Linked DNA regions of Homo sapiens. The protein of the gene in region 1 interacts with the protein of each later gene in a pairwise test. Each region holds a gene or a part of one and is shown in the gene's direction. Other genes may lie near its edges. The genes, in order: ECPAS, GAREM2, MYH7, MAL2, GOLGB1, RNF168 and MKI67.

Region 1 (3,500 bases):
GATGCCTGTAAAGTATTGCCTAAATTTATTAGAGATACAGTATTCTGGTTATAAATTCTTGTTGTAAATAGGGAAACTTATGGTAGAGAATTTATCATTTAACTCTTGGTTAATATCTCCTGCCTTGGTTGGTACCCTGATAGCTTTAATAGTATACCTGTAACTTTGAAGAAGAAAATATTACATTTTCTTTTCTTTGATATATCCTAGAACTCACTTGAAAGCAGTGGGGTCCGGACAACCAAAAATGAAGAGGAGAATGAAAAGGAAAAGGAGCTCCAGCTGGAATATCTGCTGGGTGCCTTTGAAAGCCTGGGCAAAGCCTGGCCGCGAAACGCGGAGACCCAACGTAAGCACCAGAAACTGCATTTGAAGTGCTGTAACCAGAGGTTACTTAATGAGAGCGAAGAATTTTCTCTATGACAAATTATAGTTATTGTTTCTTATCGAGCCTGATTGATTAATAATGAGAATTATCCAGTGAAAGTTTTTTGTCTACATGAGTCTGTGATCTCACTGATCATTGTACCGCTGTAGCTAGGGCTGCTGTAAGAAAGTATCACAGACTGGGTGGCTTAGCAGAAATTTATTTTCTCACAATTCTGGAGGATAGAAGTCTGAGATTTCGAGATCAAGGCGTCAGCAGGGTTAGTTTCTCCTGAGACCTCTCTCCTTGGCTTGGGAATGGCTGTCTTCTCCCTGTGTCTTCACGTGGTCTTTGGTGTCTCTGTGCCCTAATCACCTCTTCCTATAAGGACACCAGGCACGCTGGATTAGGGCCCACTCATATGACCTCTTTAAAGGCTCTGTCTTCTATTTAATAATAATACAGTCAAATTCTGAGGTACTGGGGGATAGTATTTTAACATACGAATTTTGGGGGCACAGTTCCACCTATAATAACCATGATACATTTTATGCAGATAGTTTGATAGACGAGTTCTACTGATCTTCTTGATGATCATAGCTCTATTCAGAGGAATGCACAAAGTTTATTAGCAGGGTCTCTTTATCCTGAAATGAATGGTCTTGTTACCAAGTGTTCAGTAAGCAACTGAAATCCCTGTTTCAGTGAAAAACTCATTACTATTTGGACAATTTTCAGAACTGGACATGTATTTCCCAAAGATTAAATGAACAGTAAACCTCTATTATTGGATGAGGTTGCAGTTAGTTTGGAGTCCCCTGACAGGGCCTTAACCTTGGGATGATACTACCCTTTACACTTGATCTTAGCCAAAAGGCCAAGAAGTGATGATGCTACCCTTTAAGCTTGCCTTGTGTTGGGTCCTACAGTGCATCCTGCTGAAGATCTTAGTATTCGTTTTTTTTTTGTTTGTTTTTTTTTTGAGACAGGGTCTTGCTTTGTTGCCCAGGCTGGAGTGCAGTGGTGCAGTTCTTGCAGCCTTTACCTCCTGGGCTCAAGTGATCTTCCTGCCTCAGCCTCCCAAGTATTTGGGTCTACAAGTGCATGCCACGACACCCAGCAAATTTTTTTTGAAGAGGTGAGGTCTTGCTATGTTGCCCAGGTTGGTCTCAAACTCCTGGGCTCAAGTGATCCTCCCACTTTGGCCTCCCTCTCAAAGTGCTGGGATTATAGGTATGAGCCTCCATGCCCAGCGACAATATTATTGAATGTTATAAAAAGTACTGTTGATTATTTGTGATTGGATATGTCTAGAATCAGTTAAGGTTCTCTTTGAGCCCTGTCATCCTTTGTGTGAACTTATATATTTGCTATGTTTATAGGAAGGGTTTCCCAGAAGATACAAATTTGCAGGTGGTTTTATTTCTTAATATTATGTTATAGACTGCCATGGAAGTCCACTAATATGATGCCATAAAGAGTATTAACTTTTCCTTGATAGGTAGAGAAAGCTAAAGTAGGGAATTATATGAGAAAGATGATACAAACATAAAGCAGTTTATTTTAATATAAGACATAGAAGGTTGTTAATAGAAATGTGCATTTATTGAGAACCAAGGCCTTTTCTTTAGGAACTTAACTGTTACACATTGGCTTCTCATATATATCTACAATTTCTGGGTTTTGTTTCTTTAAAACAGAGAAAGAAATTTCAAGCTCTTATGAGACAATCCTAGTGCAGAATTCTAGATTTTTTATTGCCTCCCCCCATTTTTACATTTGTTTGAGCCCTACTAAATCCTACAGTAATTAAAAATAACTTCGTTGTTGAGTTTTCTGCTGATTCATCAGTTGGCATAATATTAATTATATAGTTATAATTACAGTTGCAGTTGGCATAACAGGTTTATAATAAAGCACTGTTGACTCTTGGTAAACCTGCAATTTGCAGAAGCTTGTGAGCATCTAGAGAGGAGCTTCTGGCCTCCAGAGTTCTTTCTGTGGCTGTCATTCAGGGAGTTTTGAGGGGCAAAGGGAGTGTGGTTAAAGTGCTTTCTCAGTTCCATGGAGAACCATATGCCTTGAAAGTGAATATTTGTGAACAATTATATTGCACCTTTGTGGGGGCAGTTTCTGATCAAGGAAATTTGTTTGGGGATTGAGTACAAAGTCATGCTGAAGTTTTTGGGGAAATTTCAATGGCTTTAATTAAAAGTATTTATTGTTTTATTTCTCTTTTTCCTGCTTTTCTCTCTCTTATCCTCCCCACCTTCTCTCTTTCTCTTTCCCTCTTCCTTTCTCTTGCTCTCTCTGCCTGTCCCTCATTTATTCCATCTCTTGTTCTTTTATACTGTCTCCTGCTCTGTCCCACCTTGTCTTTTTTTCCCAGGTTGTTATCGTCAGGAGCTGTGCAAACTGATGTGTGAACGGCTAAAACTCAGCACGTGGAAAGTGCAGCTAGGAGTCCTGCAATCAATGAATGCCTTTTTTCAGGGGTAAATTGCTTCATGGCTCAGTTTTTTATTTTGTTCCTCCCCGCAGCATTTTATGTATAATCAATGGAATTTTTATACATTTAAAAACTGGTAGCTAAAGTGACAGTGATACATACAGATAGAAATTGTGACAGGAAAGTTTTAGACTGTTTCTTAATAATTGGCATTTGTACCTTGCTTTCTGATTTGTATAGGTTAATGCTTTTGGAAGAAGAACATGCCGATCCTGAGGCTTTGGCTGAAATTCTGCTTGAAACTTGTAAATCAATCACATATTCTTTAGGTGAGTGTAGTAAACTAAAACTGATGAGGGAGTCCTAATTTTAAAGCTAAGGAGCTGAGCTTCAAATATTTCCTACTTTGTCTTAGGAACTAAATTTCTGAAATAGCTACTGGACTCTGCTACTTATTATACTCCATGTGTACCCCTTAACTGGAATATTTAAATCTGGAACTATAACAGGATTTTAGCATCTAGTTTAGAAAAACCTTCGTGACAAGTATTTTTACAAAATTGTTACTTGAAAGTAATTTCAAACTTACAGAATGGTTGCAACGACAGTACATGTAATACTCTGCAATATGTATACACTTTATGCAGAATCATTTGTTAACATTTTGTGCCATTTGCTTTGTCA
Region 2 (4,189 bases), on another chromosome or scaffold:
GAGGCCGAGGCCGAGGCCATCTAAGCTTCTGGGAAGGGGGTCCCAAAGGGAGGCCCCGAGCTGGAGTCCAGGGGGCTTGGAAGGAAGAGGTGAGGACAGCAGAAAAGGAAACGCAAATTAAAAGAAGGGAACGAAGGCTGGGCGCGGTGGCTTACGCCTGTAAGTCCAGCACTTTGGGAGGCCGAGTCGGGAGGATCGCTTGAGGTCAGGAGTTCAAGACCAGCCTGGCCAACATGGTGAAACGCCGTCTCTACTAAAAATACAAAAAAATTAGCCAGGAGTGGTGGCAGGTGCCTGTCATCCCAGCTACTCCGCAGGCTGAGGTGGGAGGATCGCTTGAGCCCGGGAGGTGGGGGTTGCAGTGAGCCGAGATCGCGCCACTGCACTCCAGGCTGGGTGATAGAGTGAGACCCAGTCTCAAAAAAAGAGAAGGAAAAGAGAGAAGGGATGGTGGCGGTGGGGGAGGAAGGCGGTTCTTGTAATGATCCGAGAGGAGACCGCAGCACCGGTTACGCCCTCGAACCTCGGCCTCCTCATCTGCAGAATGGACGCAGTCCACACCGCGTGCTGTGGAAGGGTTGGAGCGCCGGTTTACATGACACAGGGCTATCGGCTAAGGGGGCGCTGGGAACGTGGAAGGTGCTCTATGGTGGGGCGCTGTAGGGTGCTCTTGGGCAGTAGGGTTGGAGTCAAATCTGGGTTGAAGTCCAACCTAGGTTGAAGTCCTGGCTGCCACCTGACCTCTGCCCCTCAGTTTGCTCATCAGTAAAATGGGGTTAAGGAGGCTGCCTCGCCCAGCTCCACGGAGCCGGAGGTGATGAAGGTCCTGGAAGAGCAGAATTCAGAACCCGAGCTTTGGGCGGCGGAGCAGGACAGGGCGCGGGTGGGCGCGGCCTCCGGGAGGCCAGCACGAGGGGGAGCGGCGGGGCCCGGACACACCCAGCCAGAAGGAGGAGGCCGACCCCGCGCCGACTCCGCAGATGCCGCTCGGGACTTCGTTGTCCCTCCAGGCGCCCGCCCTGGGGTCCTCCATCACCCGCCGTCACCTGGGCGCGGGGAAGCTGGCGGGAGGGGAGGCGGGGCTTGGCGGCAGCGGCGGGTGGGGGCCGGGGAGCGGGGGCAGGGGCGGGCGGACGGAGCGCGGGGCTGGGGACCCGGGGTCCCAGAAGGGGGCGCGGGGACGGGGTCCGAGGAGAGGGGGCCGGGGCGGGGCAGGGCGGACAGGGCTGGGGGCGGAGGTCCGGGGGTGGGTCCGGCGGCGAGTCCGGGTCGGGGCGGACAGAGCAGGGGGCGGGGGTCCGGGAGGAGGGGGCCGGGGTCCGGGAGGAGGGGGCGGGGCCCGGGGGCGGGGCCGGGGTCGGCGCCCTGCGGGGAGGCCGGCCACGTGACGCCCGCGGCCCGGCGGGGCTGCCAGGCGGCGAGCGCCGCGGCGGCCCCGGGAGGTGGCGGCGGGCGCGAGAGCCTGGGCCGCGCGGGACTGACCGTCGGGGCCCCGGGACGGCGGCCCCGGGGCGCCCATGCCATGGAGAAGCTGGCGGCCGGGCTGGCCGGCCTGCGCTGGAGCATGGGCGCCTTCCCGCTCGACCTCATCGTCAGCCGCTGCCGCCTGCCCACGCTCGCCTGCCTTGGGCCAGGTACCGGGGTCGCTGGAGATGGGGACCGGGGTCCGCGGGGAAATGGTGGGCTCTCCAGCCAGGGGCCAGAGGGATCGTGAGGAGGGTGCGGCACCCGCACCCTCCCAGCTCCCCGGCGTGGGCCCCGAGCGGTTCCTGGCGCGCCTCCCGGGAGACGCGGGGCCCACCCGCCAGGTCCGCCTCCTGGGCCCCGCGGACAAGCACAGGCACAGACACCGGGGACAGGGCCCGGGACAGAGTTTTCCCGCCCAGCTGGAGTCCGGAAAGGGGCCGAGCCCCTGCTCCCGCCCCGTCGGTTGCCCCCCTTTCCCCCGCTGCCCCTGGGCCCCCCGCCCCGGCCGCGCCCCCTTGGTCCCTTTGTCCCTGGCCTCTCACCTCTGTCTTCCCTCATCCCTGGGACCCGGACTCTGTCTTCCCCTTACCGCCACCCCTAGTCCTGCTCCGCCCCTCTGGGGACCCTTCTTGCACCTCCTTTCTCTTCCCTAGGAGCAGCCTCGGTCCTGGGGCGGGCAGGCCACCTTCGGGAGAGGCCGGCGGGAGCCGGGTCTGCTGCCCGGCGTGACCCCCAAACTCCCGGCCCTCCCCCGAATCTTGTCCCACTTCTTAATAGGACCTGGGGCCCCCAGCCGCTCGGCTGATGGAACCACGCATGGGGGCCCGAGAGGGTACGCCCGGAGGCTGCATGGAGCGAGGGGACCGTTTGGGGGGAGGGGGGTGCTGCTTGGTTGGGGGATGGGCGGTAGCCGGGGCTGGCAGCCAGGCCGGGGGTTTTGTGTGTGAGAAGAATAGGGGTTTGGCCCGCGTTGGCACACTCGCTTCCATGAATGCTAATGGGGCCCGCGGCCGCAGGCTCCTCGTCTCCCCGTGGGGCCCGGCAGCCCCTCCTCCGTGGCGGCCAGGAGTGGGCACAGTGGGCGTCAGCTGTCCCGGGAGCAGGCTCATGGGGGAGCATCGGCGCCCCGCCGTCGGGCAGGCCAGCGTCTAGTTCTCTGGCTCGCGGCCGAGTGGTCAGAGTGTGGTACTGTGTCTGCCTGTGAATGGAGGTCGCTGCCCTGGGGTCTTCTGGCCACTTCCCACACATCCTTTTTGGCATCTCCCCTTTCTGGGCAGCTTTTCTGAGCTCCTCGGTCTGCGTAGGGCCTCCTTTGGGCTCCCCGGCCACCTCATGCCAACTCTGGCTTGTCTCCTACTGTGCACCCCATTATAATGGTCAGTCAGTTTATTGTCTTTAGACCTGGCTGTGGGCTCCTTGAGACCAGGCATCCTTGCCCAATAAAGATTATGGATTGAATGAATGGGTGAGTGAATGAACAACTGGTGTGATGGCCCAGCTGTCTGTTGTGTGTGACAGTGTGTGGCTATGGCTGGGTCACCATCAGGGTGTGAATGTCTGGTCAGAATTGTATGGCTTGAAGGGTAGGTCCCTGTGTGCCTGTGCATTTGGGAGGGGCCCCTTGGCCGGAGACTGAGTTATGTTGTTTGGGTGACAAGCATCTGTCACTGTGGGCTATTGTGGTTCAGCTGTTGGTGGTCATGAGCCATGATTACTGCTGTGTGCCCATGTGGCTGTGAAGATGGGGCTAGGACCCAGGACAGCTCTCAGAGGAGGGAGCAGAGTTGGAGGAGAGCTTCTTGGGCCCCCGGAGGTGAGGAGGTACAGGGGAAAGCTTAGACAACACCCCCAACACACACATAGTGGGGGCCAGGCCCTTCCTGTGCGTCTTGAACCGCCCGCCACCCTGCCACACACACACACACACATACACACACACGCCTACCCCACATGTACACATTTTATGGAGCCCCCAGCCATCAGAGTAAACCATTTCCCATTTGATTGGCAGAAATTTTGTAAGTTGTGCCTGAAGGAGAAAGGAAGGAGGTACTCCCTACCCCCACCCTCCCCACCAGCTGCAGCCCGGACACAGCCCCTTCTGCCTCCTGGAAGCTGGGCTGCCCCTCCTGCTCCCCTGGAAACCGTTGCTGGGGTTGGCGCCTCCAGGCCCAGACCCCTCCCAACTCCCAACACCTCTGCCCCAGAGCAGCTTCCCCCAGGCCCCAGGGCTGGGCCTCCCACTCCTGCCTTCTAAACCTGCTCTCTCAACCCCTCCAACCCTCAGCCGTCACCCCTGTAACTGGGAGGATGAGGGGGCGTGGGGAGGGGGTGTCAAGGAGCTGCTTCTCTGAGATGGGGTTGGGGGTTTCTGGGGACTCCCCCCTCTCCTTCGAGGTCCCCTTGACAAGGCAGTGGGTGGCTTCTCTGAGATGGGGTTGGGGGTTTCTGGGGACTCCCCCCCTCTCCTTCGAGGTCCCCTGAACAAGGCAGTGGGTGGAAAGGAAGGGCTGCCCTTGGGAGAGGCAGTAATCAGCTGCTCTAAGCCCTGTCATTCTCCTGACCTGAGCGACCCGTGGCTCTGGGGGAGCTCTCACAGCTGGGACCTTATAAGGGACAGTCCCGTCCGGGCCCTCTCCACTGCCCCAGTAGGGCCCTTCTTGCAGGGCCTAGGCCCTGACTGGGAAGCACAGCTCCAGCATCTCCTGCTCAATAAAGTCTC
Region 3 (4,204 bases), on another chromosome or scaffold:
CAGGCCTGCCTCACTCCTTCCAAGCTGACAGCTAATCAGATGGACTAATCCGCATGCGCGGAAGAGCTGTGCTTGGGAAGAAGGGGGAGATTTCACACCAAATCGTGCAGTGGTTGCCTAGACACGGAGCCAGTCAAGCTTGCATGCCCCGTTGCTAGAAGAGCATGGCATCGGTTGTGTTCTGTGCTCGTAGGCTGGGCCCCAGCTCCCTTTCCTCCCCTCCTTTGTGGCTGTTCCTCAGGCCTGCAGAGGGGAAGATTTTTCCTGTCCTGTTACTCTGCCTCACTTGCCAGAACACTAGTCGCCTCCAGCTCTGGATAAAGCTGAGGCTGGGTGGGCCAGACAACAGCTGTCTTAGGGGTCTCCTTCCAGCTCCAAGTAGTTGTATTATCTATAGCTCTGAGAGGGTCTGTCTCTGGGCTCAGGCCTTTAGTACCTGTGGGGCAGAGCCAGGAACGTGAGTCAGGCAAACCGCTCCAAACTAGGACCAATGCAGCTGGGTCCTGCTCTCTGCGCATAGGGGGTCCCCACATCTTTGGAATCCCAGCCCACCTTTCCAGGCTACCCTCCACAGGCCGGGCTCCACTCCCATCTGCTGAGGTTTCCCACCTTGAATCCTGCTGCCCCGATTAGCTGTATAACCTTAAAGAATGCACTGTCCCTCTCCATTAAATGAAGTGCTTGGATGGATTGCTAAAGGCCTGTCTGGCTCGGAGGCTTGGTGACCTCAACACATTGCCTGCTGGTCCAAGGAAATCAGTGCCTGAGCCAGAGTCCCCATCTCTAAGCTCCATGGTTATTGTTCTTGCCACCTGGCTAGGAAATGTCCTTCCAGCTGCCCCAGTCTAGCTGCCTCACCCTGGGGCCATGCCCCCAACTCTGTCCTACCCTTCTCTGCTGCTGACACTCAGCCCCTTCCCAGCTTCCAGTTGGATACAGGACCTGGGCCAGGAGAGCAGGGAGGACACTGTGGAAATGCGGCCAGGCCATCAGGGGCCTCGCAGCAGGGGACTGGAGGGGGAGCAGTGTCCAGGGCCAGAAGTGCCCTGCGGGAGAGCCAGGACATTGGCTGCCTGTGGTCTTGGTGGTCGTGGTCAGTTCCCTCTCCTGCCAGCTGTGGAATGTGAGGCCTGGCCTGGGAGATATTTTTGCTGCACTTTGAGCCACCCCGCCCCCTGGAACTCAGACCCTGCACAGTCCATGCCATAACAATGACGACCACTTCCAATTGTTTCCTAGCTGGAGAGGCGGGGAGGGGAGCACTGTTTGGGAAGGGGGGGAGCCTGGGGGAAATGCTTCTAGTGACAACAGCCCTTTCTAAATCCGGCTAGGGACTGGGTGCCGTTGGGGGTGGGGGTGCCCTGCTGCCCCATATATACAGCCCCTGAGACCAGGTCTGGCTCCACAGCTCTGTCCTGCTCTGTGTCTTTCCCTGCTGCTCTCAGGTAGGAGCGGGAGCTGGAGGCTTTACTCTGGGATAAGGGGGCTCCAGGCTTAGGAAGGGATTCCTCTTGGAATAGCAAGCTTCATGCAGGACTTCATGCAGAGTACCAGGTCCAGTCACTGGGCACACATGTGCAGGTCTAAACATGGGCGTATGTGCCACAGGAGTTCCTAGGGGAAGATATCTGCATCTGAGCATATGGGACCAATATGCATTACAGGGTGTGTGTGTGTGTGTGTGTGTGTGTGTGTGTGTGGACAAGCCTGCATAGTCTGAATGTGAGAAAGGGTATGTACCTCACTGACTGATACAGAAATATCAAGTGGGAGATGTGGGTGTATGATCACGTCTGTGAACGAGGAGGTTCCTTTGCAGGGAGGGAGAAAGAATGGTGGAGAAGGATTCTAGGAAGTGTGTATGCCTTCATGTGATTCTGTGAGGCCTGGAATGTGTAGCTACCCCTGTCCATGCATGCAGAGGTTCTTGTCTATGCCTCCACGAGTCATGACTGTTATAGTATCTGTACCCTCTGCAGAAGGAACTCACAGGCACGGGGGTGTAGGATGTTCCAGGTCTTTGTGTACTGAAGAACACGCAGTGATGTGATCTACTTACGTGGCACACATCCTGAAATGTGCACATTTGCTGTTGAGGCATATATGGCACCCTGGGGTTGGGGTGCGGATTGAGGTATGGGAAGGAAGCCTGTCTTCATGTGAGAGGCATGCCCAAGCAGCAGGCATGAGTGTTCATCAGAGGGCTTGTGGAGGGTGTTTGGCTATGTGATGGGTGTGTCTGTGAGAGGAAGCCCACAGTGTCTTCTCTCTGAGAATGTCCACAAAGTCTGACAACAAAATGGGGACAGGATGGAAAAGAAGTCTCTTTAGAGTCATCAGACTTGCATTCAAGTCTTGGCTCTCCCACTTGTTGTCATGGGCTCTTGGCCAAGCAAGCCATTTAACCTCGATTTCCTCATCTGTCAAATGGGGTGAAGACTGAGTAGGAGAAAGTGCATTGAAGTGCTTTTAGACTGGAAAGTGCCGAACAAATGTGACCATTAGTTGTCTCTCAGATGGCTCAAAGAAAGGTACCACTAGATGGGTACAGGCAGGGGTGGGACCATCTCGCAGGAGTGAAGAGGATTAGGGTTCAGGTTGAGTTGACACCAGGAAGCTGTTAGAACTAGTTCTTGAGGAAAAAGGGAATAGGGTTTGAAAAACAAGAAGGATGGGACCAGAGAAGCTGACCACCCTTTCCACCTTGTTTTGGAAGAGGGTGGATGCTGAAGAACAGAGCCAGGGAGAAGCAGGAAGGTGGGACTGGTCAGGTTGGGCACAGCCTGCCCTGACACAGCCTCTTCCCTCTCTCCAGGTCCCCTGCAGGCCTTGGCCCCTTTCCTCATCTGTAGACACACTTGAGTAGCCCAGGTAAGAAAAGCTGAAGCTAGAGTGTTGAAAATCTAGTAAGACTGGGCATTAGAGCCCCAAAGCCAGCCTATGGAACTCTAGTTTCTGCCATGTGCTGGAGAGAATATCTTGGCTATCAAGAGCTACTTACCTGTGACCAGGGGGTCCAGGGATAGATGAGGGTCAGAGATGGAAATAGTTAGATTTCTGCTCCTACAGGGAGCTCAGAATGCTCTTCCTTCCCCTAGGAGAGCCCCAGCTTGAACAATAGTTAGTTGTTCCTTTTACCCTGGCAGGTTTGCTAGGCTGCTCCTCTGGTTAAGGGGTAACCTCAAAGAGGAAGGGACTCACTGGTAACTCCTCTTGACTCTTGAGCATGGTGCTAGGTTTTGGGGCTCCCACTGAAGGGGAGAGCCCAGGGAGGGAAGGGAAGAATGGGCAGATGGGAGGGCAGCCAGCTTCTGCTCACTCCAGGCACAGCCATGGGAGATTCGGAGATGGCAGTCTTTGGGGCTGCCGCCCCCTACCTGCGCAAGTCAGAGAAGGAGCGGCTAGAAGCGCAGACCAGGCCTTTTGACCTCAAGAAGGATGTCTTCGTGCCTGATGACAAACAGGAGTTTGTCAAGGCCAAGATCGTGTCTCGAGAGGGTGGCAAAGTCACTGCCGAGACCGAGTATGGCAAGGTGGGTGTCAGGCTGATGTGAGAGTCCACCCTGGCCACCTGTACACCTGGGTGGACAGAGAGGGGTACACCCATGCCCCATGCCCATGCAGACCTGAGGATGGTCCCATTCTCCTTCCCTTTGGGGAAGAATCCAGACCCTCCAAAGAGCCCTCTCCTTCCCAATATCCCTTCTGTCTTCCCTGTGAGATCCTGGTTCCTTCTCTCTTGAGCACTATTGCCCTGTCACTCACCAACTCCTAACCCTCTTGAGGAAGGAGGGAAAGCCCAGGCTGACAGGAGGGCTTGGGTGGGGGCTCTTGCAGACAGTGACCGTGAAGGAGGACCAGGTGATGCAGCAGAACCCACCCAAGTTCGACAAAATCGAGGACATGGCCATGCTGACCTTCCTGCATGAGCCCGCGGTGCTCTACAACCTCAAGGATCGCTACGGCTCCTGGATGATCTACGTGAGTGCTGCACCTGGCCCTACGTTGGGATCTCTGTTCTTGCTCCATCCATGTCCACCCCAGGAGCCAAGAGTGTCTTCTGTTTGTGTCTAGGCAGGGTTACACTCTAACCTCGTCCCAACATCCTTGGTTCAATTCCAACACTCTGGGGACTGGCATTACTCAGATTGAGTGCATGCAGAGGTTTTCCTTTCTCTTCTTTCTCTCCTGGGATCTTTCTCTA
Region 4 (3,500 bases), on another chromosome or scaffold:
AATTTGTTCTGTTTTCCTAACTAACTAAATAAATAAACACCTTGCTGCCTTGCATCTCTAATGCAGGTCTATGCCAGGGCCAGTCCAGAAGCAGTTTGGACAGAAGTCAGCATGGTTAGAGGACAGATGGGGACTGATGAGGGGAGCAGGAGGCACTGGAAGAAGGCACAAGATTTACCCTGGTCAAAAGTTCCAGTGGCAGTTACAATAGAAATAGGTCATGTGGGCAAATTTGGGGCCGAAAAAAGATTTAAAATTGGGTGTCATGAATTCAACTGGCAAGAGGTACAAAGTTTCCCATAACTTTCCATCTCAGCCTCCTGAGATCTGGTACTAGGTGGTGGGTGTCACCAATAATAACTTGAGAATTGAGAAGTACATATTCTCGCTTCACTCGTTTTCATGCCTATTTTTGGACATCCACCATGAACCAGGGAGTGAGCTGGGCTCCAGACCGGAGTGTGTTCCTAGCATCCCAAGCTGCACTCCTAGAGCATTCTCTTTTGGAACCATTCATTACACATGCCGGTTGGTTTCCATTCATTTCAAGGAGGATGGATTGAGGACCTTCTGTAGAAAGCACCACCCTGGGTAATGAGCATACGGAGATGTTGAAGGCAATGTCACCGACTCTGACGTCACAGTCTAGTGGGTGAAATGGGCATGTAGATCCATGATTTTGATCCAGTTGTAATTGCTGTGGAGAATACACGCGTCAGTAACCGTGGAAGCACCGAGGGATGGCACCTGGCCAGGGAAGTCTTTCTGGAAAACATGGTAACTGGAGTTTAGTTATGCAGCAGAATTTTTACTGGCAGCATGCTAGGCAGAAACATGGTCAAGTGTGATCATTTCTCTATGCTCAGGGGATGAGGGGTAGAGGCTGGAATGCAAAGAGAGGGTGGTAGGAAAAGAAGCATTACAGGGAAGATGATGAGCTTGGGGAGGGGGGCAGCAGTATGCCTTGTAGTGGTACCAGTGATCTACAGTCGCATTGTGAATGAATCCATACTTGTGTGGGCTGCTTTGTAAATACATCTACCAGTTATATTGTATGTGTTGGCTAAGTATGTTTCTAGTTTAAGGAAATCTTTCAAAATGCGAATTGTATGTAAAATATAGCTAATTGTAGATAATCTTTTTTTTTCTAGCTGATAAATTTCTGAATATACTGAACACTTCTATAACCATGATGTTTCCTGTGCAGCACCCCATAAGTAAACATCCATTAAAATAGAAGGGGTTACAAGTAGATAAAGTGTTCTGAACTTCTGGGTGGGGGGGCCACATACCCCTTTGTGATTCTGATGAAAGGTGTGGACTGTGTCCTCAGAAAAATGCATATGTACTTGTCCACCCAATTTTATATGATTTTAGGAAATCATATGGAATATGGGTAGAAACCCTGCTTTAGAATGAACACTAAACCATGAGAGGGGCAGAATAGCAGAATGTTAAAATCATAAGTTCTGGAAGCCAATTGCCAAGTTCAAATTTCAGGTCTAACACTTATTAACTATATAACTAGGAACAAGTTATGAATGGATTTGTACCTCAATTAACTTACCTATAAAGTAGGAATAATAATGTTGTCTCTCAAGGTCTGTGAGGATTAAATTGGCACAAATAAAACCCTTATAACGGTGCTTATAACATAAGAGCTCAGTAAATGTTAAGTACTATTTCTGCTATCACCATTAGCTTCAACTTCTTACTCTAACTCTACAAGCCAGACTGGAAGACAAATATTTTTTTGCTTTTCCTCTATGTTTGCTGGGTGTTCATTCTCACTGCAGTAGAATAATGAATTATCCAATATATAGATAATAGAATTAGAAGGAGGGAGCTTAATACGGAAAGTTCTAAATAGTGTTTTCCCTTATGGGTAGTTTAGCCAGCCTTTATCCTTTCAAATTCACTTACCTTTTCCTGTTCTCATTCCAAACATTAATTGAAAATAGGTCACAGTAGAAATTAGCCGGTTTACTTTGTGGGTATACTAAGATGGAGGTGTCAAATTGGTTTGAAAAAATTTTTAGCTGTCAGAGGGTATGTTTAAAAGCAGGTAATTAGGAAATAAGTGACATTTGAAAAGAAAAAGGGCATTTGCAAAAGGAACCCTTTGGGAACATAAGACCGTCCAAACAGGAGATGAGTTAAGAATCTGTAATTCATGCACCCAGAATTGCAAGAGTTGCTACTTGCTCAAGAGCATGTTTTCCCGTGGGACTATGTATTTTTCCCATTCCACAGTTTCTAGTGAAAACATGTCTTCACATCAAACCCTGAGGATTCAGTTTAGTGTGATTTGTGGATAAATACTTCCGTGGTTTTCTTATGGTAGGGTTTCAGCCAAGTCATACCTTTCTGGTCTGCAGAGACCAAGCAAACATAACAAACATGTGTTAAACCAGAAAGAAGATCAGTTGTTTTAGGAATGTGTAGCAATTTAATAACTGCAACTCAGAATATATTTGAGTACTTCTGGTATGTACCCAGTACACCTAAAGTTGGGTTAAGAAGATAAAAGGTGACTGAGTCACCGGGAGATGCTGATACCTACTCCTAGGAGGTTTTTACCTTTGTATTGCCTGGAAGCAAAGGTAGTCTTTTTGTTAGAGCTTGAGGTTTGACGTCATAAGCACTGACTTAGTTTCTTAAAGAAATTTCAAATTGAGGTGCCTTTGGCTATTTTATACATAATTATTGGATTTTTTAGAACACTAGAAAGCAGTGGAAGGCAGTGGCAGGGAAGGGGTCAGAATATGGATTCAGATCCAAGACGATGAGAATAACGTGGGCGAAACATATAATAGTTCCGAATACCTTTCTTCACAGTGTGTACTCTGCAGTTGCTACTGTATTTATCATCTGTTCTCTGTCAGATTTAACCATTTTTGTGTTCTGCTTTTTACTTCTAAAAATATGGCCACCTCCAGAGTCGTCTCTACTGAACAGGAATGCTGATAATTACACCGTTTTGCAAACACTCTAAGCTCACTAATGCCCGGAATTAGAGGAAGTGAATATACTGAGCATTGGTCATCTCAATTTTTTAAGTTCAGTTTTTTAACTTAAAAAAACTGGAGCCAAGTTTAAGTTGGAGCCAAGTTGGGAAGCTCAAGAAGAAAAGTAGCTTTTGTCAAAAGGAAATCACAAAGTAGGGAATAATAACTGTGTCAAGGCCAGAGTGATCCATACACCAGTATGACAGTCTCAAAATGAGGATGGTGGCCCTCCAAAGTGGGCTCAATTATGTTCTCTGGCCCATCCTCTCTCTTCCAAAGCGAGCCTGGATTTCACAGAATCTCAGCTCTAGGGATGTATCATATGTATTTACTTGAGTGAGAGAGAGGGGGCATTCCTACACTCCTTCCCTCTCCCCTTTCCATGCAGCACATACCCCACAAGTGAGGAGGTGAATCTGACTCCTGTTCATGCAGCATTTAGTTTCCCTTCCAAGCCTTTGAGGTGTTTGAAGGGCTGTAATTTTGAGTACG
Region 5 (3,500 bases), on another chromosome or scaffold:
ATCCAGTCTGTCATTGATGGACATTTGGATTGGTTCCAAGTCTTTGCTATTGTGAATAGTGCTGCAGTAAACATACATGTGTATATGTCTTTATAGTAGCATGATTTATAATCCTTTGGGTATATACCCAGTAATGGGATCACTGGGTCAAATGGTATTTCTAGTTCTGATCCTTGAGGAATTGCCACACTGTCTTCCACAATGGTTGAACTAATTTACACTACCACCAATAGTGTAAAAGCATTCCTATTTTTCCACAACCTCTCCAGCACCTGTTGTTTCCTGACTTTTTAATGATTGCCATTCTAACTGGTGTGAGATGGTATCTCATTGTAGTTTGGATTTGCATTTCTCTGATGACCAGTGATGGTGAGCATTTTTCCATGTGTCTGTTGGCTTCATAAATGTCTTCTTTTGAGAAGTGTCTGTTCATATCCTTTGCCCACTTTTTGATGGTGTTATTTTTTTTCTTGTAAATTTGTTTAAGTTCTTTGTAGGTTCTGGATGTTAGCCCTTTGTCAGATGGGTAGTTTGCAAAAATTTTATCCCATTCTGTAGGTTGCCTGTTCACTCTGATGGTAGTTTCTTTTGCTGTGCAGAAGCTCTTTAGTTTAATTAGATCCCATTTGTCTATTTTGGCTTTTTTTGCCATTGCTTTTGGTGTTTTAGTCATGAAGTCTTTGCCCATGCCTATGTCCTGAATGGTATTGCCTAGGTTTTCTTCTAGGGTTTTTTATGGTTTTAGGTCTAACATTTAAGTCTTTAATCCATCTTGAATTAATTTTTGTATAAGGTGCAAGGAAGGGATCCAGTTTCACCTTTCTACGTATGGCTAGCCAGTTTTCCCAGCACCATTTATTAAATAGGGAATCCTTTCCCCATTTCTTGTTTTTGTCAGGTTTGTCAAAGATTAGATGGTTGTAGATGTGTGGTGTTATTTCTGAGGGCTCTGTTCTGTTCCATTGGTCTATGTATGTGTTTTGGTACCAGTACCATGCTGTTTTGCTTACTGTCGCCTTGTAGTATAGTTTGAAGTCAGGTAGCGTGATGCCTCCAGCTTTGTTCTTTTTGCTTAAGATTGTCTTGGCTATGCAGGCTCTTTTTTGGTTCCATATGAACTTTAAAGTAGTTTTTTCCAATTTTGTGAAGAAAGTCATTGGTAGCTTGATGGGGATGGCATTGAATCTATAAATTACCTTGGACAGTATGGCCCAGTGTGCTGTAATTCTTATTCATACATATTCAAATTATCCTTTTAGCCAATGGGAACCTGTGTCCTTTGAAAGCTTCCTATCTTGTATGACAAGATGTTTCAGGATCATTTTGTACATTTCCACTTTAGAAATGGAATTAGCCATTTCTCTAAGAAAACCTTCTTTTAAAAACTTTTTTAAAAATGGGAAAGAGTATTTCAAGACCCCAATCTAGGCACTAGAGATATTCATTGCTTCTCAGTTTGTCATTACTTTTAAGCCTTTTTGGTGGACAGAGCTAGGAAAATATGTGAACAAATATAAAATACTGAATTGTCATTTCACACTGAGTGTTCCTATTCAGATTCAAAGATTAGTTTGTATTTCGGGGTTCTTAATTTCTTCTGTATTACATCTGTATCTTCTTTTCATAACTGAAAATACAGAATTAGTGTATCCATAATTATCATTTGCTTTAATTCTACATTTCACATATAGTAATCTAGGAGTGATGATACGAATATCACCACCACAACCACTTTAGACGAGATCGGGTGTGTTCAGGATGGTATGGCCGTAGACAACAACCACTTTTAATTATTGAAAACTGTTTAAAAATATTTTTTATTTTTTGCATATGCTATTCACATTCTTCCCGATTTTTTTTCATGGTTGTCCTATATATTGTCAGAGCATATAATCATTACATACTATGCTGTCTCTCCTCCAGTCTTTACTTAGTCTTAATTCTGTTAGTAACCGTATATTTAATGCTCACCACTAGTTCTTATAATGATGTTTCTTTAGTCATTTGGATTGCCTCAAGTTTTGCCTCTAGTAAATTCTTTAGGAAAGGCTTAAGGGAATATTCATATTTCATGAATTTTCTTGCTCGTTCATAACATTTTGTCTGTGTTTTTTATATCTAAAGTTTGTGTTTGCCAGAAATAGAATCCTTGGCTCACTTTTTCTTTTCTTGAATATCTTAAATTTGTAACTCATTTTTTTTTTCTGGCAAAAACATTGCTGTTGAAAAATCTAGTGCTTTTTTTTCTTTATCTTACTGGTCATATGATCTTTTAGCCTAAAGCCTAAAGGATTTTTTTAAGTCCAGTAATTTTACTAGAGTGTTTTGTTGGTCATTCTGAGTTGACATTCTGAGGTACATTGTGGGCTCTTTCAAGATGTAGTTTCAAATCTTTTTAAAAAAAATTTTCAAATAAATATTCTTGGATTATGGTTTTTCATATTTGTGCTGTTTCTTTGCTTTGCTTTTCTTCTTCAGGGAATCCTGTTATTCACATTACTTATCTTCAATATTTATCTGTTTCTCGCAAATCCTATGTAACTCTTAATTTCTTACATTTTTTAAAAATAAACAAATTATTAGGAATTATTTCAGATCACTACAGAAAGTTTACTACAGAAAATTTGCAAAGATAGTGCAGAAGTCTGGTGTATCCTTTGCTTAGTATTCCCTAAGATTAACATGTGACATTAGCAGTGTACAAAATTAAGAAACCAACATTGGTACATTAATATTAACTGAACTCCAGACGTTGTTCACATTTCACCAGTTTCTCCATTAATGTCCATTTTCTGTTCCAGGATTCAATTCAGGATATCATGTTGCATTTAGTTCATTTCTTTTTCATTTGTTTTTTAAATATGAAGACAATTGTAGAGTCACATGCAGTTGTAGGAAATAATCAGAGCTCTTTTATACACTTTGTTGTTTCTTCCAGTGGTAACATTTTGCAAAACTAATACATAATATCACAATTAGGATATTGAGATAGATATATTCCCCAGTTTTACTTGTATATTCATTTGTATATGTATGTATGTGTATCATTAAGTTTTGCAGTGTTATATCACCTGTGTAGGTTCCTGTATCCACTGCCACAGTCAAGATATTGAACAGCTGCAACACCACAAGGATCCCTTGTGTTGCCTTGTTATGACCACAGTCACTTCCCACCCCAACCCCTCTCTAACCACTGGTAATCACTCATCTTTCCTCCATTTCTAAAATTTTGTCATTTCAAAAATGTTATAGAAGTATGGAATTGTATAATATGTAACCTTTTGGGACTGGCTTTTTTTCATTCAATGTAATTTTCTGGAGATCCATCTAAGTTGTTGGGTCCATCAGTAGTTCGTTGCTTTTTATTTCTGAGAAGTATGTGATGGGATGTATGTACCAGTTTGTTTAACCATTTGCCTGTATATATCAGTTTGCTTAACCGTCTATTAATAGAAATAAAGCTGCTATGAATGTTTATATACAGCAGGTTCTCTTGTGAA
Region 6 (3,500 bases), on another chromosome or scaffold:
TTTGTTGAGGATACATACCCACATTTAGGTTATTTTCTGACCCAGAATTATCTTTCAACTCCAGGGTGATGATTTTTTCTCTTTGTATAGCTTACTGTTTCCCTAGTCCTGCAGATGTATTTCAAATGTCTGACGATCCTTGGATTAGCTTTTAGGTTTGAGAATGAGGCCCAGGAGAAAAGCTCTGTGTATGTGGAAGGGTATTGGTGATGGGCAGACGTTGAGTTCAAGCCGATGGAAACCTGGCCTTTGTGCTTTGCCATCCCTAACTGCCCGATCGCAGAGGACTTTGCTCTGGGTCACCACCTATTACATTAGCTGCTCTGGCTCTCTCTAGATCTGTTTCTTTAAAGAAATATGCGTGTGTGCACCTGCACCCATATCCAGGGAGAAATGCCGGTAAGTCGAGGATTCTGATTTAACAGCTTATAAATCTCGAGTTCTGTTTTCAGTCCCACGGTTACTCACTCTGGACTCTATGAGCCTCTCTCTAGGCAAATAGGAGGCAGATTCCCTTCTAATTCTACCTCAGCTGTAGTCTTCCCTTTCAAGGATTTCTTTTCCTTCATTTCTGCTGTATCAATTATCTCTATTTCATTGCCTTCCCATTTTCTAGAAATTTGTTAAAAATTTTTTAACTGGAGCCGGGCACGGTGGCTCACGCCTGTAGTCCCAGCACTTTGGGAGGCTGAGGTGAGCAGATTGCCCGACATTAGGAGTTCGAAACCAGCCTGGCCAACATGGCAAAAACCGGTCTGTATTAAAAATACAAAAATTAGCTGGGCATGGTTGGGCATGCCTGTGATCCCAGCTACTCAGGACACTGAGGCACAATAATTGTTTGAACCCGGGAGGCGGAGGTTGCAGTGAGCTGAGATTGCACCACTGCACTCCAGCCTGGGTGACAGAGCAAGACTCTGTCTCAAAAAAAAAAAACATTTTTTTTTAATCAGTTAACCTCCTCTGCTAATTTCTGCTGTTGTAGGATTACAGTTTTTAAAAATTCCTTTACTGTTATTTTAATGGAGTTTAGAGGAAGGGTTAAGTATATGCATTCATATGCCATTTCAAACCCAAAACCCTAAACCTCTGGCCTCACAAAATGGAATTCCAGGCCGGGCGTGGTGGCTCACACCTGTAATCGCAGCACTTTGGGAGGCCAAGGCGGGTGGATCACTTGAGGTCAGGAGCTCGAGACCAGCCTGGCCAATGTGGTGAAACCCTGACTCTACCAAAAATATAAAAAATTAGCTGGGTGTGGTGGCGCATGCCTGTAATCCCAGCTGCTCAGGAGAAGGCTGAGGCAGGAGAATCGCTTGAACCTGGGAGGTGGAGGTTGCAGTGAGCCGAGACTGTGCCACTGCACTCCAGCCTGGGCAGCAGAGCAAGGCTCTGTCTCAAAAAAAATAAATAAAATAAATCTAAAATAAATAAATAAAATAAATGTTAAAAATGGAATTCCAAAAGGAGATATTGCTGCAGTTATTAATAGTTGTATATTTTAATTTTTCGTTTTAATGGAAGACCAAAGTTACCATAAAATTGTGTTGCCTATAATGTTATTTTCTTTTTTGATATGAAATAGCTGATGACTATCAGCCAGTTCGTCTGCTCAGTAAACCTGGGGAACTGAGAAGAGAATATGAAGAGGAAATAAGCAAGGTAGGTGCTAAATAGTTTTTTTTTTTGGAATATTTCTCTGCTGTGTTTTTAGTTTCAGATTTTAATTTAGTTTTTTGTGCTTATATAACTAGTATATCTTGAAATATGGATAATTTTTTTTTTTTGAGATGGAGTCTCACTCTGTCACCCAGGCTGGAGTGCAGTGGCGCAATCTCGGCTCACTGCAACCTCCACCTCCCGGGTTCATGCCATTCTCCTGCCTCAGCCTCCCGAGTAGCTGGGACTACAGGCGCCCGCCACTACGCCTGGCTAATTTTTTTGTATTTTTAGTAGAGATGGGGTTTCACAGTGTTCACCAGGATGGTCTCGATCTCCTGACCTTGTGATCCGCCCGCCTCGGCCTCCCAAAGTGCTGGGATTATAGGTGTGAGCCACTGTGCCTGGCCAAAATATGGATAATTTTAATGTACTTTATAAGGGCTTTGTTTTTTGCTGTAATTTACTTCTACATAATTAATGCTCTTATGTGATAGTGTTCCCTAAGCATTTACATATGAAGAAAATTTTTTAATTCTTCTTTTTCCTAATTTAATCCATACCAGGATATATTTTTATTTCCCCAAAGTTTTGAGCTTAAAGTAAAAGGGTGGTAGAGTGTGAGTTTAGATGAGGAAAGGTTAAAGGGCTAGCTGTGAAGTTCCTAAATAGGAAAAGTACCTAAAAAGCAGTGTTTATAGTGAAGCATTATGTTTTAATTACATATGAAGTTATACATAAATAGAGATTTTTCTCTTTTTTTGTTAGTCTTCAAAATTTTGTGTATAATTTTCACTTGTAATACATCTCAGGCTAGGTGTGGAGGCTCACACCTATAATTTCAGTGCTTTGGGAGGCTGAGATGGGACAGCTATCTTGCAGGAATCTACTTCTCCAGATTTGTACTTCATTTGAGATCATTTAAATTTCTGCCAATTTGTTCTTTTTCTACTTTTCTATTCTTGTTATGAAATATTGCAAGTATACCAAAACGTTCAGAGAAGGATTGCTCTTTATTAATCACTTTTAAGGTGGCGGCAGAGCGACGGGCCAGCGAGGAAGAAGAAAACAAAGCCAGTGAAGAATACATACAGAGGTTGTTGGCAGAGGAGGAAGAAGAGGAAAAAAGACAGGCAGAAAAAAGGCGAAGAGCGATGGAAGAACAACTGAAAAGTGATGAGGAACTGGCAAGAAAGCTAAGCATTGATATTGTAAGTTTTAGGAGGGAACGCTAAGGTATGGTCATCCCTTGGTATGCGCTGCTGCAGAACCCGCTCATGGGAAGAGTCAGCTCCTTGTATTTCCAGGTTCTGCATCCCACAAATATTGTCTTTTCCACCCCAGGCTGGTTGGATTTGAGTGTTTGGAACCTGCTGATACGGAAAGCTAACTATTAACATTCCGATTGCTTTGACTGTGGTTTTCAAAGAACAGAAGAGATGGCGTTGCCATAATTAGAAGCTATTGATAACATTTTTGCTTTACTTAAAGTAAAATTGTTTTGCATATTGTTACATATTTGCTCTAATCCAGGTTTTTGGGGTTTTTTGTTTTTTGAGACAGGTCTTACTCTGTCATGCAGGTTGGAGTGCAGTGGCACAATCACGACTCACTGCAGCCTCGACGGCCGGGCTCCGGTGATCCTTCCAACCTCCCGAGTAGCTGGGACTACAGGCTGGCACTACCATGCCTGGCTACTTTTTTGTGGAGACAGGGCTTTGCCATGTTTCCTGAACTGGTGTCGAGCTCCTGGGCTCAAGCCGTCCATCTGCCTCGGCGTCTCAAAGTGCTGGGTTTGTGGCGTGAGCCACCGCAAGTTGTTTAACAACTTTTTTATATGT
Region 7 (3,500 bases), on another chromosome or scaffold:
GAAGGGGCAACAAGAATGCAAGTGCTAAATGTCTAGCCTGTCAGAAATGGAGGAGGTGTCATTTAACATGTCAACGACAGACAGATGCCTAACTTTCCCTTGGTGACTGATGGTATGCTATGCTTAGGAGAGACTCTAGATATGAGAAAATTGCCTGTTCAGCTGTCAACTCAGTTCTCAGTAGTTAGATAGCATGTGCTATTTCATACTGGTTATTGGAGCTGATATGATTTATATATTTGTATCATAATACTAGTATCATAAGACTTGCAAGTTTTAGGCATTAAATAATTTGTAGGCCAAGTAAAAGCTAGCTTATAAGACAACCTGAAACAATTAAAATATTGAATTCCACAAATGTTAATCATTGAGAAAATGCTGAACTTCTGTTTCTTATTTCATAATTCATTGCCAAGATGAGAAAGCTCAAGATTCCAAGGCCTATTCAAAAATCACTGAAGGAAAAGTTTCAGGAAATCCTCAGGTACATATCAAGAATGTCAAAGAAGACAGTACCGCAGATGACTCAAAAGACAGTGTTGCTCAGGGAACAACTAATGTTCATTCCTCAGAACATGCTGGACGTAATGGCAGAAATGCAGCTGATCCCATTTCTGGGGATTTTAAAGAAATTTCCAGCGTTAAATTAGTGAGCCGTTATGGAGAATTGAAGTCTGTTCCCACTACACAATGTCTTGACAATAGCAAAAAAAATGAATCTCCCTTTTGGAAGCTTTATGAGTCAGTGAAGAAAGAGTTGGATGTAAAATCACAAAAAGAAAATGTCCTACAGTATTGTAGAAAATCTGGATTACAAACTGATTACGCAACAGAGAAAGAAAGTGCTGATGGTTTACAGGGGGAGACCCAACTGTTGGTCTCGCGTAAGTCAAGACCAAAATCTGGTGGGAGCGGCCACGCTGTGGCAGAGCCTGCTTCACCTGAACAAGAGCTTGACCAGAACAAGGGGAAGGGAAGAGACGTGGAGTCTGTTCAGACTCCCAGCAAGGCTGTGGGCGCCAGCTTTCCTCTCTATGAGCCGGCTAAAATGAAGACCCCTGTACAATATTCACAGCAACAAAATTCTCCACAAAAACATAAGAACAAAGACCTGTATACTACTGGTAGAAGAGAATCTGTGAATCTGGGTAAAAGTGAAGGCTTCAAGGCTGGTGATAAAACTCTTACTCCCAGGAAGCTTTCAACTAGAAATCGAACACCAGCTAAAGTTGAAGATGCAGCTGACTCTGCCACTAAGCCAGAAAATCTCTCTTCCAAAACCAGAGGAAGTATTCCTACAGATGTGGAAGTTCTGCCTACGGAAACTGAAATTCACAATGAGCCATTTTTAACTCTGTGGCTCACTCAAGTTGAGAGGAAGATCCAAAAGGATTCCCTCAGCAAGCCTGAGAAATTGGGCACTACAGCTGGACAGATGTGCTCTGGGTTACCTGGTCTTAGTTCAGTTGATATCAACAACTTTGGTGATTCCATTAGTAAGTTTATTTAATTGTAAATTTATTTTTCTAAAAGATGAACACCTTCTATGTAGCTGTGAGACCTTCATTCTTTCAGTAGTGATTAGCTTTGTGGAAGAGAATGTAAGCACATAAGGCACAGGGATAAGACAGACACGCACGCTGTTTTCGCTAATAGATGAATACTGAAGGCCTAGGTAATTGTAACAAGGAATGACAGAAGAGATGGAAGTTGTCAGGCAATCATGAAGCAGGGGTTATTGAAGGAGATAGGGTGGCCCCAAAAATATTTGATTCTCCTCCATCTATCACAAAATAGAAAAGAGAATAATCATAATTGCTTTTCACATGGAGTTTAATTCTGAACTACAATCAACTGTATCATATGAGTTTGGTCATGTGGAATAAATCACTGGTAATCATTAAACATAGCGGTAGTTCTCAGGTGTTGATACTCTGTTTTCAGAGTGTCCTACAAACAATTTGCTGTAAACACTGGACTGTACCCATGAGTCCATATGCCACATGAACACTTGATCCTTGGTGCAATAGCAGTGCCCGTGGCTAGGTTGTCTTTTTAGAGCTATGTCACACATGAGGAAACGCACAACCCAAGGCCAGTCAGGAAGTGGCAGAGGTAGGACCTTTATAGCAGGTGTGGTAGCTCCTCGGGAGCTTCCTACACTCCTAGGGACTGGCTATTAGAAGAAAAGTTGTCTGGGCCACAGACGCAGTATTCGTACTCCAGGCTGTGTTTCTGCAGGTGGCCTATAGCGGTGGGGCATGAGGCTGTCGATAAAATAAGGTTTGTAACATCAGTCTCAGTATTCCACCAAGCTTCCTAGTGGGGAAGCATCACTTAGGCAAGGGATTTACATTAACTGGTGGCTCAGGAAAATGTGTGGCCGGGACTGGGCTCCTGTGAATTGACTCAGAACCACCTGGAGGAGTTTTTACAGCTCATGCATTCTGGTCACTGGGTGGCTCAGGCTGAGACCCAAGTGCATGTCTTTAGAGAGTTCTCTGGCTGTCGTCCCCCTACTCTAAGGTGAAATCTGCTGCTGCAGACTCCTCCTTTCTATGTCCACACATAATGTTTCAATGTTTTAAAGAAAGCCTCTGTACTGTCCAGTGGCAACTTGACGTCTTAGTGGCCACTCCCGCAATCCTTTAGGAACTCTTAGTAGCTTAGCTTCACCAGGATTGCAAGAATAGAGGCGTGCTGTAGGTACTGTGTTTCGATGACTTTTCACTTGGTTTGTCTTTAATGCTAACGTGAAATAAATCACTAGTCTTGGTATGTTTTTTCATTGCTCTTTCCACATTTGTATCCGTTACTTTAGATGAGAGTGAGGGAATACCTTTGAAAAGAAGGCGTGTGTCCTTTGGTGGGCACCTAAGACCTGAACTATTTGATGAAAACTTGCCTCCTAATACGCCTCTCAAAAGGGGAGAAGCCCCAACCAAAAGAAAGTCTCTGGTAATGCACACTCCACCTGTCCTGAAGAAAATCATCAAGGTGAGTTGAACAAGCAGCATCCCATTCACGCCCAGTGGCTCACACACCGGGTACCTATTCCTTTCCAAATACTGACACAAGTAGAATTATGATGAAGACCTTTATTTATTTATTAAAGAAACAAGTTTTTAAAAAGACGAATGAAAGCTCATTGATGTGGGCACCAGCAAAGGAGCCCCTGGGTCCCTGACCGTGGTGCTGATGCGACCGAGTCGGGGGAGTCCTTGATGTTGTCCTTTTCGTGCAGAAGTTCCCAGACACCCACGCTTACAGCACTGCGTAATCACCTGCAGGCACCGTCAGAATAGCCAATTACAAAGATTCTGGATACATTACCACGTCGACCCATAAGGATTGTTTTATTTTCTTTTAGAGTTACAAGGCTATAGTTAAGGCATTTACCTGGTGTGAAGGAAAATCAATGGCACATCTTCCTTTTACACCTTCAGCTCTTTAGAATATTTGCTTGCCTGTTCCTTTGCTGTGTTGTCCTTCCTGGGTTT

What was found.
Region 2: the proteins of ECPAS (region 1) and GAREM2 interact in a two-hybrid assay, tested with the Homo sapiens proteins (one large-scale study listed by BioGRID).
Region 3: the proteins of ECPAS (region 1) and MYH7 interact in a two-hybrid assay, tested with the Homo sapiens proteins (one large-scale study listed by BioGRID).
Region 4: the proteins of ECPAS (region 1) and MAL2 interact in binary tests that used the Homo sapiens proteins (3 or more experiments, as listed by UniProt).
Region 5: the proteins of ECPAS (region 1) and GOLGB1 interact in a two-hybrid assay, tested with the Homo sapiens proteins (one large-scale study listed by BioGRID).
Region 6: the proteins of ECPAS (region 1) and RNF168 interact in a two-hybrid assay, tested with the Homo sapiens proteins (one large-scale study listed by BioGRID).
Region 7: the proteins of ECPAS (region 1) and MKI67 interact in a two-hybrid assay, tested with the Homo sapiens proteins (one large-scale study listed by BioGRID).

What each region holds. Positions count from the first base shown.
Region 1 is NC_000009.12:111,365,884-111,369,383, reverse strand, and holds part of ECPAS (proteasome adapter and scaffold protein ECM29), read left to right. Parts: intron 1-210; coding exon 211-349; intron 350-2,756; coding exon 2,757-2,862; intron 2,863-3,056; coding exon 3,057-3,145; intron 3,146-3,500. UniProt on the Homo sapiens protein: Adapter/scaffolding protein that binds to the 26S proteasome, motor proteins and other compartment specific proteins. May couple the proteasome to different compartments including endosome, endoplasmic reticulum and centrosome.
Region 2 is NC_000002.12:26,171,699-26,175,887, forward strand, and holds the start of GAREM2 (GRB2-associated and regulator of MAPK protein 2), read left to right. Parts: upstream 1-1,389; 5' UTR 1,390-1,522; coding exon 1,523-1,634; intron 1,635-2,163; exon of another isoform or gene 2,164-2,299; intron 2,300-2,596; exon of another isoform or gene 2,597-3,174; coding exon of another isoform or gene 3,175-3,280; intron 3,281-4,189. UniProt on the Homo sapiens protein: Probable adapter protein that may provide a link between cell surface epidermal growth factor receptor and the MAPK/ERK signaling pathway.
Region 3 is NC_000014.9:23,432,861-23,437,064, reverse strand, and holds the start of MYH7 (myosin-7), read left to right. Parts: upstream 1-1,404; 5' UTR 1,405-1,445; intron 1,446-2,815; 5' UTR 2,816-2,871; intron 2,872-3,324; 5' UTR 3,325-3,332; coding exon 3,333-3,533; intron 3,534-3,837; coding exon 3,838-3,981; intron 3,982-4,204. UniProt on the Homo sapiens protein: Myosins are actin-based motor molecules with ATPase activity essential for muscle contraction. Forms regular bipolar thick filaments that, together with actin thin filaments, constitute the fundamental contractile unit of skeletal and cardiac muscle.
Region 4 is NC_000008.11:119,214,863-119,218,362, forward strand, and holds part of MAL2 (protein MAL2), read left to right. Parts: exon of another isoform or gene 1-765; intron 766-3,500. UniProt on the Homo sapiens protein: Member of the machinery of polarized transport. Required for the indirect transcytotic route at the step of the egress of the transcytosing cargo from perinuclear endosomes in order for it to travel to the apical surface via a raft-dependent pathway.
Region 5 is NC_000003.12:121,739,742-121,743,241, reverse strand, and holds part of GOLGB1 (golgin subfamily B member 1), read left to right. Parts: intron 1-3,500. UniProt on the Homo sapiens protein: May participate in forming intercisternal cross-bridges of the Golgi complex.
Region 6 is NC_000003.12:196,486,769-196,490,268, reverse strand, and holds part of RNF168 (E3 ubiquitin-protein ligase RNF168), read left to right. Parts: intron 1-1,585; coding exon 1,586-1,662; intron 1,663-2,690; coding exon 2,691-2,870; intron 2,871-3,500. UniProt on the Homo sapiens protein: E3 ubiquitin-protein ligase required for accumulation of repair proteins to sites of DNA damage. Acts with UBE2N/UBC13 to amplify the RNF8-dependent histone ubiquitination.
Region 7 is NC_000010.11:128,112,924-128,116,423, reverse strand, and holds part of MKI67 (proliferation marker protein Ki-67), read left to right. Parts: intron 1-416; coding exon 417-1,496; intron 1,497-2,821; coding exon 2,822-2,997; intron 2,998-3,500. UniProt on the Homo sapiens protein: Protein that associates with the surface of mitotic chromosomes and acts both as a chromosome repellent during early mitosis and chromosome attractant during late mitosis.